Homo sapiens: one gene and its partners. The protein of the gene in region 1 purifies or fractionates together with the protein of each later gene. This does not show direct contact. Each region holds a gene or a part of one and is shown in the gene's direction. Other genes may lie near its edges. The genes, in order: WDR48, UNC13B and TRMT11.

Evidence for each region.
Region 2: the proteins of WDR48 (region 1) and UNC13B purify together in Homo sapiens (affinity purification with mass spectrometry, with the first as the bait; one large-scale study listed by BioGRID). This does not show direct contact.
Region 3: the proteins of WDR48 (region 1) and TRMT11 purify together in Homo sapiens (affinity purification with mass spectrometry; one large-scale study listed by BioGRID and IntAct). This does not show direct contact.

Annotation. Positions count from the first base shown.
Region 1 is NC_000003.12:39,082,904-39,086,555, forward strand, and holds part of WDR48 (WD repeat-containing protein 48), read left to right. Parts: intron 1-1,251; coding exon 1,252-1,359; intron 1,360-1,741; coding exon 1,742-1,838; intron 1,839-2,611; coding exon 2,612-2,707; intron 2,708-3,397; exon of another isoform or gene 3,398-3,481; intron 3,482-3,652. UniProt on the Homo sapiens protein: Regulator of deubiquitinating complexes, which acts as a strong activator of USP1, USP12 and USP46. Enhances the USP1-mediated deubiquitination of FANCD2; USP1 being almost inactive by itself.
Region 2 is NC_000009.12:35,308,447-35,312,098, forward strand, and holds part of UNC13B (protein unc-13 homolog B), read left to right. Parts: intron 1-2,020; coding exon 2,021-2,335; intron 2,336-3,652. UniProt on the Homo sapiens protein: Plays a role in vesicle maturation during exocytosis as a target of the diacylglycerol second messenger pathway.
Region 3 is NC_000006.12:125,989,472-125,993,123, forward strand, and holds part of TRMT11 (tRNA (guanine(10)-N(2))-methyltransferase TRMT11), read left to right. Parts: intron 1-3,652. UniProt on the Homo sapiens protein: Catalytic subunit of the TRMT11-TRM112 methyltransferase complex, that specifically mediates the S-adenosyl-L-methionine-dependent N(2)-methylation of guanosine nucleotide at position 10 (m2G10) in tRNAs.

The DNA of each region.
Region 1 (3,652 bases):
ATGTAGACTGAGAAGAAACTAAGTCATCAGTCTTTCAGGGATGTTGGGAAAAGAGGAAGCCACAATAGTATATGATTTTAAAAAGTTGCGGGGGAGTAAGAAAATGAAGAGCCAGTGGCAGCTCCAGAACTAATTGAGTGTTTCAAGAAGAAGCTTGCGGTTAGTGGCATTAACCTGCTGTGAGTTGATTTAAGATGTGACTAACATCATGGATTTAAATAAAGAGGGTGGCCTCTGGGTAGAGTCTTAAGGGCAAAAGCCAGGTAGAGTGAGTTGAGTAGTGATTTGAAGGTGAAGAAACAGAAAATTTGACTGGATAATCTTTGAAGAAATTTGATTGGAGGGGTAGGCAGGAAGCGGCGGAAACTAGAGAAGATGTAGGAGTCAGAGGGCCAAAGGAAGCTTTTGATTTTGTTTGGTTTTGTTTGGATATTTGGGTATTTTTCAGATGTAAGAAATTTGAGCATATTTCATTGCTCCTGGGAAGAAGCCAGTAGAGACATTCATGGGTAGATGACAATACAAGGTCATCCCAAGAAGCAAGAGGTGAGGGGGACCGGAGCACAGTCAGAAGGGACACCGTTTTCCTTGCACCAGGGAGAATGATAGAGAAAGTTAAGGGGATTCTGTCAAGGCTTCTCTTTGTTTTGAGAAAAAGGAATCAGAGTCATGTGCTGAGGATAATGGGGAAGGTGGCAAGGTCAGAGGTAGAAGAGAGATTTAGTTGAGATGGACTGCAAGACAGTGACCCCAGGGCTCAAGTCTCCAGTAAATGAGGGAGAGTGGCAGGTTGCTAGATGGCAGTGAAGGAAAGGTGTACCGTTTACTGTTGCTAAATGACATAGGCCTCAGAGAAATAAGTTTTTACATGGGAGATGGTAGAGTAATGGTCTCCATGGAGCATCAAGGAACAATGGGATGTGGGAAAATAAGCAGTCCCCCTTTGAGAAGATGGCCGACAACTGGGACCCTCGAAAGAGCCACGTTGCTGTTAAGATGAGGTGGTATATTATATCAATATCAGCACAATTAAATACAGTTTCTTCCCAAATACTATTTTGTGCTTTTTTAATTTAAATTTTTTATAGCAGCAGATTGTTATTTTAAAAAAGGACCACATTCTTTTTGAAATGTATTTTAGACTGTTTCACTTAGACACATGTGAAAATATGTAAAATTTTGAATAGCAAAGTCAGAATCAAGTGAATTCACCACTTAATATTGATCATTATACTTTCTTTTGATGTATAGGCATGTAAAGTTGAAGATCTGGGCAAAGTGGATTTTGAAGATGAAATTAAGAAAAGATTTAAAATGGTGTATGTGCCAAATTGGTTCTCAGTAGACTTAAAAACAGGGGTAAGTTAGCAATTGATACTTGTATGATTTGGGATAATTGAAGATTTTCATTATAGCTTATAATTATTATTAGTTACAGAGTCCTGTGTTTTTAGGTGTGAAAAAAAAAATTTGTGTTAAAACTTAAAATGCAAAATGGAATAAAAAAGAAAAAAACAAAATTAAAAATATATTAAAAAAGAAAAAAATTTAAAAGTTACAAAATGCCTTTGGTATCCCAGGAAACTAAATTGTGTTGTTGCATTGAATCACACAAAACACATTTTGGTTCCTGAATTTATGACTTAGCACTTTAGTCAAATAGTACAAATAAATGAAGGTTTAGAGACTTGTTTGGAGAATATATTCAAATGGGATGCCACTAAGTTTTTTCTTTTGATAGATGTTAACTATTACTTTGGATGAAAGTGATTGTTTTGCTGCCTGGGTTTCTGCAAAAGATGCTGGTTTCAGCAGCCCTGATGGGTCAGATCCAAAATGTGAGTTTAAGTGTCCTTCATTTTTTTCCTCCCTTCTAAAGAGAAGATGAATATGAGCTGTTTTTTGCTAAGTACTTATCTTTGTAAAAGTTCTCTATATTTTGTTGACTATGTCCTAAAAATGTGGTATGTACAAATACCTAATGTATACAAATCATTTTAGTAATTTCATATGGAAATAGCCGTTTAAAGAATCTGATTCTCGGCCAGGCGCAGTGGCTCACACCTGTAATCTCAGCACTTTGGGAGGCCGAGGCGGGTGGATCACGAGGTCAGGGGATCGAGACCATCCTGGCTAACACGGTGAAACCCCGTCTCTACTAAAAATACAAAAAATTAGCCGGGCGTGGTGGCGGGTGCCTGTAGTCCCAGCTATTCGGGAGGCTGAGGCAGGAGAATGGCGTGAACCCGGGAGGCGGAGCTTGCAGTGAGCCGAGATTGCACCACTGCGCTCCAGCCTGGGTGACAGAGCGAGACTCTATCTCAAAAAAAAAAAAAATCTGATTCTCATGTTTGTTTTTAAATAATAGCTGTATCTGAACAACCAAGTAGAATATGTCTTTGCTCCATAGCATCATTGCTTTAAACATTCTAAGATAAAATTTTAGCAGAATTGGCAAAATGACTAAAGTCTTTATTTTAGACATCATTCGCATTGGGTTAAGAATGTAACATCAGAATATGTACAAACTTACAATTTTTATTCTATTTTTAGGTTAAAGCCAAGTAACTCGCTTTTCCATTTTATCTCTTTTTAATTAACTTTTTTGCAGTGAATTTAGGAGGACTTTTACTCCAAGCACTCCTGGAATATTGGCCTAGAACACATGTGAATCCAATGGATGAAGAGGAAAATGAAGTAAACCATGGTTAGTTTTTATATTCAGATAGTTGCATAAAAAGTTAGAGGTACTTACTTAAAAGGTACTTACTAAAAGGTACTTACTTAAACCGTTAGCTAAAATATTTGTGGTGTACTCAGTTTATTGTCCTCTCTTCCATATCTCAAAGTAGGAACATCCATCCAGTCTTAACTGAGACTGAGATTCCAAAAGAGCAGACCACCTTATGATATGGCTTTTAGTGAGACTGCTCAAGATAAATAAAATACTCTATATTCAGATGACTTTTGTCTTAAAATGAGGCACCTTAACAGACTTATTTCCAAAATATTCTTCAAGGTACCTCTGATCTTTTGGATTAACCTCCAAAGCTAGGTAGTTAGCTGCATCAGAAAGCCAGGTTTGTCATTGCATAGTCACTCTTCATGTTGGGCTGAAATGTTGGTATTTCCTAGTCTCATGGCCTACCTGATTTTGACTCTGTTTCAAAAAAAAATTCAAATTCCAACTCAGAAGTGACAGGGCATATGCTCAAGCATGTGTAAAGAATTAATGTCACTGAGGACATCTGAAACGTGTGTGTGCCATAGGCAGTGGCAGTAACGTTCCCTGAGCAGCAGAGGAGAACATGTTTTGAATATATGCATTTGGCTCAGTTTGATCAAAGGAAGGGGAAACAAGAACTTAGAATTTCACATCCTCATGTGTAACCTACAGCTGGTTGAGGAATCATTGAGTCCCATCGACTGAGGCTTACTCTGCTGAAGATTCTCTGCTGGCCACCAGGAGTGAGCAACAATGGCGAGTACCTCCTGCCAGGGACTTTGTTCTGGCTGTCAGATTCACCCATAATGATATGTGGAATTTAAATCTCTCACATGAGGATGACATGCTTCCTTGAAAACCAGTCTTCTGATGTTCCTGTCAGAGAGAGGGTGCTGTTGCCCCACCCATGGTGGCTTTTCTTTTACA
Region 2 (3,652 bases), on another chromosome or scaffold:
AAGGAATTGACCATTTATGATGCAAGTGACTTAGTGGTAGATTAATCATAGCTTGCTTTTTATCCTTCTTGTGTCTTTCCTAGTACCCGAGCTTCATGTTAATTAGGGGTTAAATAACAAGAACTCAGTGTGTGGGTATTTTCATCCTCCCCTTCTCTCTCTGCCAAATGTAATTCATTTACTGGAACAAGGAGCTTCCTGCTTAAAGCAAAAGCTGGGCCCCCGATATTTACTCACTCTGGTTTGCTCTGCCTTGTATAATGTGAAATGGAGAAAGGAGGGCAGGAAGAGGTAGTAAGTAGTTGGTGGTATATATTAACTACAACTACATGATAGGCTAGGATGCTTCCTTGGGCCTTAGGCACTTATATCTTGTAGGAGATGGGGATAGATCTATTTTGCTTTGTTTTTTCAAGTCTTCTAAGATGCTTTCTCCAGTGGCAATGAGTGTATTAAGCAAAATACAAAGTGCAAAGGATGCCTTGGGATAGTCTGTATTCCCATATCCTATTCCATACAGATTTGCATAGTTTCTTCCATGGTATCATCTCTGCCTTTTACTACCCTCAAGGCTGATGTCTGATAAATGCTTTGAGTAAAATCTCACAGGAACTCAGAGCTGTCCTTTGCTGTAGTTCTTCAGTCTCGAGCAGTGTACAGGATCTATCTGCAGAGGGTACTGTTATTTCCCCTAAGAAGCAGTACCATACAGTACAGATTAAGAATGCTACCTTGACCTCTGGCCCAAACTTGTTCAAAGGGGTTGGTCAGGGTCAGTGTGTGTGTGTGTGTGTGTGTGTGTGTGTGTGTGTGTGTGTATACTTATGTACAAGTATATGTGTTTGTGTGTTGAACTACTCAGAACAGTGACCTGGTACCTATTCTGCTGGCATGGGCTAGAGGATCAGAAATCAGCCTGAAAATACCAGGTAATTAGGAGGAACTTTAGGGAAAATCCCATTGGAAAATAACAGTGATTTCTCTTCTTTGACCAAGGGTAAACACAAGCCCTTTAGTTAAAGGCTTGACTCTGTGGTAAGAAAATTCTTCAAAAGAACTGAAGCCCTTAGATGACAGGGCCATAAAACTCAAGGAAGTAACTTCTAGATACTGCTCTTCTTTCCACCACTCTGCCCTTCTTGCCACTGTCACATTCTCTGCTATAACTGCTTTCTCTCATGACTTTCTGGATATGGGAATACAGGTGATTGAGAAAAGATTGGCTTGCTGGTCTTCAGATATAGAGATGCATGAATACGGCTCTGACCCAGATCCTGGAGTTGGACTTTGTCCACTCTTTCCAAAACTGAGCCTTGCCCTGAAAGAAGCTCAGTTACAGATGTTCATCTTTGGGACGCTTCCTATGCTGCCAGGGATATCATTGTAGCATTTATGTTGATGAGACCATTCGTTTGTGTATTCTCTTGGTCCTGGCCTCTATCTTCCAATGGGTTCTATTAACTCATCTTGCAGATGAGGAAACTGAGATGATAACTGAAAGAACATGTCTGCTCTCCTTTGCTCATCCTAAGGTACAGGCGTACACATTTACAATTGTAGAGGAAGAAATGATGACCTCAATGTAATAAGTAATAGAAAAAGAGTGGAGTTCATTCATTCCATTTTACTGTGTGGAAATTAAAGAAAGATTAATCACAGCCACTGGACAAGCTTCTTTAGAAGACTGAATAAAGAATTTTAGGAATAAGTAACAGGCCATTTTAATAATTTTTAATCCTACTCACAAATAGCCTATTAAGATAAAATATACTTCAAAGTCAAGTGCAGAACTGAGGTTAAGTGTCGTTGGAGAACCCAGCATGTTGTGTTGTTTTCCTGTTGTGTTTTCGCTGAATAGAGACTAATTCTTCTAGATTATGAAGTTTGGTCCTCTCTTCCCAGGAACCTCCTATTTGATTCTTGCTACTAATGTAGTCATTATTTCCTGGATGTCTCCTTTCTTTTGTCCTGGTCCCTGATTGCATTTATTTACTTATCTGTCTTTCTGTCATTCTCACAGCCCCACCAGCAGCAGTAGGTATGGCTCCTCCTGTAATGTGAGTCAAGGAAGCTCTCAGCTAAGTGAACTAGACCAGTATCACGAACAAGATGACGACCATCGGGAGACGGACTCGATTCATTCTTGCCACAGCTCTCACAGCCTGTCCAGAGATGGCCAAGCAGGTTTTGGAGAACAAGAGAAACCCTTGGAGGTGACAGGTCAAGCAGAGAAGGAGGCAGCATGTGAACCCAAGGAGATGAAAGAAGATGCCACAACCCACCCTCCCCCAGATCTGGTGCTGCAAAAAGACCACTTCCTAGGTCCCCAGGAGAGGTAGGCAACAGCTGCCTTGAGGAGCTCACATGGCTTCCTCAGTACCTGCCCTGTGGTATTGCTGAAAATAAGTGATTGTCATTTGTTTCCCTGCAGCTGGGTATGGTGGTAGTTAACACCTCCAGGCTCAACTCTGTATTGCTTCCTTTGATTTATGGTGCACTTTCCAAGACATTTTGGAGATCTCTGAAGAATATTTGGGTTTTTGTTTGTTTGCTTTTGAGATAGGGTCTCACTCTGTTGTCCAGGCTGGCACGATCTTGGCTCACTGCAGCCTCAACAGCCTGGTCTCAAGCAATTCTCCCACCTCAGCTTCCTGAGTAGCTGGGACTACTAGGTGTGCACCACCACACCTGGCTAATTGTATGTTTATAGAGACAAGGTTTCACCATGTTGCCCAGGCTGGTCTTGAACTCCTGAGCTCAAGCAATCCACCTGCCTCAGACTCCCAAAGTGCTGGGATTACAGCGGTGTGCCACTGCACCCAGCCAGCACTTGGGTTCTTTGTAGTTAGTGAGCTGCAGTGTACCAGGGCTTCTTGAGTCTGCAGTTCATAGCTTACTAGTTGACCTTGTATATGGCAGCCTCTGAGTCAGGAACTGACTTGAGCCAGGTTATTTCATCCACTGGGGCTGTGGTAGGTACTTTGGCTGACTTCCTAACCTATTAAGAATGCTACTTTGACCTCTGGCCCAAACTTGTTCAAAGGGGTTGGTCAGGGTCAGTGTGTGTGCATGTACTTATGTACAGGTATATGTGTATGTGTGTTGAAGTACTCAGAACAGTGACCTGGTACCTATTCTGCTGGTATGGGCTAGAGGATCAGAAATCAGCCTGAAAATACCAGGCAATTAGGAGGAACTTAGGGAAAATCCCATTGGAAAATAACAGTGATTTCTGTTGTAACTTTTTTGGTGAACATTTTGTTTTGTTTTTCCCTGGCTGAGAAACCCAGGACAGAGTTAAGAAAGAATTGATCTAGAAGTCAGATTTAACCCACCCCTCAGCCTCCTCAGGGCCTAGCAATGTGTCTGCCAATTGGTATCCATAGGAAGAAAAATTTAAAATGTATCCTCTTTAACATCTCATAATGAAGCTGAGTACAGAGTCTGAATGTTATTACTGAGCTAAATCGGTTAGACTAGCTGATAGGTTGGAGCAGAGCCAGAGTTCTCAGTCTCGGCACTCGTGACATTTTGGGCCAGATTATTCTTTGTTGTGTATATTATAGGATGTTTAATAGCATCACTGGCCTCTACACACTAGATGCCAGTAGCAATCCTTGCAACCCTCAGTTGTGACAATTAAAACTGTCTC
Region 3 (3,652 bases), on another chromosome or scaffold:
AGGAAGTGACAAGATCATTTGTGTTTTAGAAAGATCATTCTGAAGTACGAGAGAAAAGATACCACTTAGAGAATACTGGACCAGAACTAGAGAGGCTCAGGAGTGTGACTGTGTAAAGTAAGGCAATGCAGTGACAATGGAGTGGTTAGACTGTGGTCTCCAGAATAACAACCTTAGTACTTGGTGATTTTTACTTGTTTTTTCCGTCGTAAATTCTTCTTAGTGTATTACACTTGTGCCAGTTTATTCTTCCAAAAACTCTGTTCTGTTTTACACCCTCATTTTTCTTAAGATGAAAATCTTTAGTCGGGCATTCAAAGTCCATCACTGCATGGTTCTTTCCTTTGTGCTTTCACTTCCCACCTAGTCCTTAGTGCTGCCAAAACTGACTCATTATTCCCTGAATTCCTGCTTTCACCTTTGCTCTCTGTGCTCCCTTTAGTCTGGTTTGGGTCTTTCCCATTCTTTATTGATTTTTACATAGGAAGTATTCATTTAGAGTTAATCACATGTTTATTTCTTTTAGCTTTATATGTTTTACATGATTATTTTTCAGATCCACAGTTCCCTTTCTGTAGTTTTTCCTCCTCTGCCAAAATTCTTATTTTTTTCTTGAATCCCCTTCAATGTAGAAAGCGTAGTTATGTTAAAGTATATGATAAAAGGGATCCTGTGGGTCTGTTTCTATTGTTTCTTTTTGTTCTGTTTCATATAGTGGGCTATTTTTAAAATATATGCCAGATGTTGTATTTGAAAATTTATTTGAAAAAATAATTTGAGGGCTGGGATGATGTACATCCTCTTCAAGAAGATAGGAACGCATAGGAGCATGAGGAATCTAGGTTGGGTTTAACTCATTTTCAGGTGTTAAGCCCTGTTTGTGTTCTGATTCCCAGGTACTCACAGAGTGTAGCTTTTTGACATCCTAGTGTAAATTAGGTGGTTCATCAAGTATCCTTTTCTCCTCTGGGGGGCCCTTTCTCTTTTTTTCCCTTTCTATCGGGCACTCAGAAGGGCTGTTCACTCTTGCAGCTGTTTTTGGATTTGTAAATGTCTCAGGGAAAAAGTGGCTCCACCTTGGAATTTTTGTCCTCTCCTGGATGTTGGTTTGGTAATTTTTGTTATCTTTCTATGCCTTCAATTAGATGGCCAGCTTTTCTAGTTCTTTTCAGCAAGAAGCTTAATCTGAATTACCTCTTTTGCCATACCTGGAAGTTGAATTCCTGTCATTGGGTTAGATTTTTTTCAGGGATTGAGGCAGTTTCCATGAAACTTTACTTCTCAAACTGAAGTAATCTTTTACTCTCTTGTACTCTAATACTTTTTTGCTTTTACCTGTTTAAGAACATGTACTGTTTTTTACACTTTACATTTCAGTTGTGAGGTGGTTTTGTTGGTTCTACTAGACCATAATTTCCCTAAGATAAATGTGTGTGTATTTTTACATAGATCAGGGACTTGCACATATTAGTTGCTTAAAAATTTTTTTGGGGGTCCGGGCGCAGTGGCTCACTCCTGTAATTCCAGTACTTTGGGAGGCTGAGGCGGGCGGATCACAAGGTCAGGAGTTCGAGACCAGTCTGGCCAACATAGTGAAACCCCATCTCTACTAAAAATACAAAAAATTAGCCAGATGTGGTGGTGTGCGCCTGTAATCTCAGCTACCCAAGAGGCTGAGGCAGGAGAATCGCATGAACCTGGGAGGTGGAGGTTGCAGTGAGCCGAGATCACACCATCGCACTCCAGCCCGGGTGACAGTGTGAGACTCCATCTCAAAAAAAAAAAAAAAATTTTTTTTGGAGACTGTTCTCTCTCTGTTTTCCAGGCTACAGTGCAGTGGCGTGACCGTGGCTCACTGCAGCCTCAAAGACCCAAGTTAAGCCATCCTCCCACCTTAGCTTCCTGAGTAGCTGGGACTACAGGTGCACCACTATGTCTGGCTAATTTTTTTATTTTTATTTTTGTGGAGCCGGGTGTTAATCAGAGGCTGAGTGTTGGTGTGAGGGGGCGGGAGGGGGTCTTGGGAGCTCTCACTGTGTTGCCAGGGTTGGTCTCAGACTCCCGGTCTCAAGTTATCTCTTTGCCTCGGCCTCCCAAAGTGCTGGGATTGCAGGTGGAGCCGCCATACCTGGCTGCTTAAAATATTAAAATCAGTGATATAGAATCTCTTCTGGGAAAGGCAATGCAAAGGACAGTCTATCCTTTTGGGCCCAGCTACTGCATTAGAACTGATAAGCAAGGAAGCTATAATGAATGGCTGCCTTTATGAATTAAAATGAGAGATCAGGAATATAAGTGTGGTCCAGTTTTACCTCTGATAGAGTTAATCAGGGCTAAGTATAGTTGGCAGCTACTTAATGTAGTACTTATTGTACTAAATAGTGTTTACTAAAGTTCAAACTCCTGGGTTTTATTGCTTGTCCTGAAGCAACCTTTTAAATGGATGAAAAAGCAAGTAGCTGAAATAATAGAAAAGCTCATGGAATTAACGCATCACACATGCCCCAGATCATGCTACATTTTTATATCCAATGTTCAATATAAATTATTTTTTATTCCTAATATAGAAAGAGTCTCAACTGGAAAGTTGAATTTGCCATAAGATTAATGAACATTTTGTGTTTTGCTTTTTCCAAGTAGATTGATGAAGTGGTTTAAACATGTTTTGCTTTTCAATTTGAAACTTGGGTTATCATATTTATTCTCAGTTTTAGGTGGCTGCTTAAGCTTTGGGTAGTAGAGATAATGCTATGCCATAAAACTTTAATCTTTCACTTTTTTTCCCCACCTAACTCTTAGGATCTTTGTGTTTTAGCTTGTTGCAGCTTTTTAACAGTATATTCCAGGAGCAGCAAACTTTGGTGTTTTAACTTGGTTATAGTTGGATGTTTTAAATGTAAAACTGACTTTACAATATGCTTTAATATAGAACAAACAACAATCATGCAAGATGAAGTAATTTAATCTATAACTTTATTTTTTTTCTTTTAAGTGCTATAACTCTATCAGTCTTGGTTGACTTCTTGAGCCACTGGACTTCTAGGACAGTTATCAGGGTCCTCATCATTTTGATTCCCTTAATAACCACCTAGGTTCTATGCTTCTCTCTTTATAGTTCACCTAACCTGATGAGGTAGCTATGATTCCTGTTTCACATTTGAGGGAACTAAAAGTTGGAGGATTTAAGATTCTTGTATAAAGCCACATCGCTAGTATTTGGAAGAGCTGAAAATCAGATTATGGTCTATTTAATTTCTAAGTCTCATGATGTCTCCTATTCAGATTTGTGTTTTCCTTGCTGCAAAATAACCTTTGGGCTGCCTTCACTGATTTATCAGTAGTCTGTGATAGTTCTTGGTCGATCCATCTGATTGGACTGAATTCAGCCCCTTCTAACACTGAATTTTAAAAAATGATTTGTTGCATAGACAAAATAGAAATGGCACTAGTAGCTTGAACTTCTCATTCTTCTTGGTCTTGGAGTGGGGGACTTCCTGGTCTGGGTATAGTTTCCCTTTTGATGGCGGTGGGCTTGGTGTTAAAGGCTCTTCCTTCTGGTTGGGAGGAAAGGGGATAGTAGGTAGCCAGCAGTGGAACACTTACCTCTCATTAGGTTCCATCCTCCATGAGACCTATATGGAAGAGTGTGATT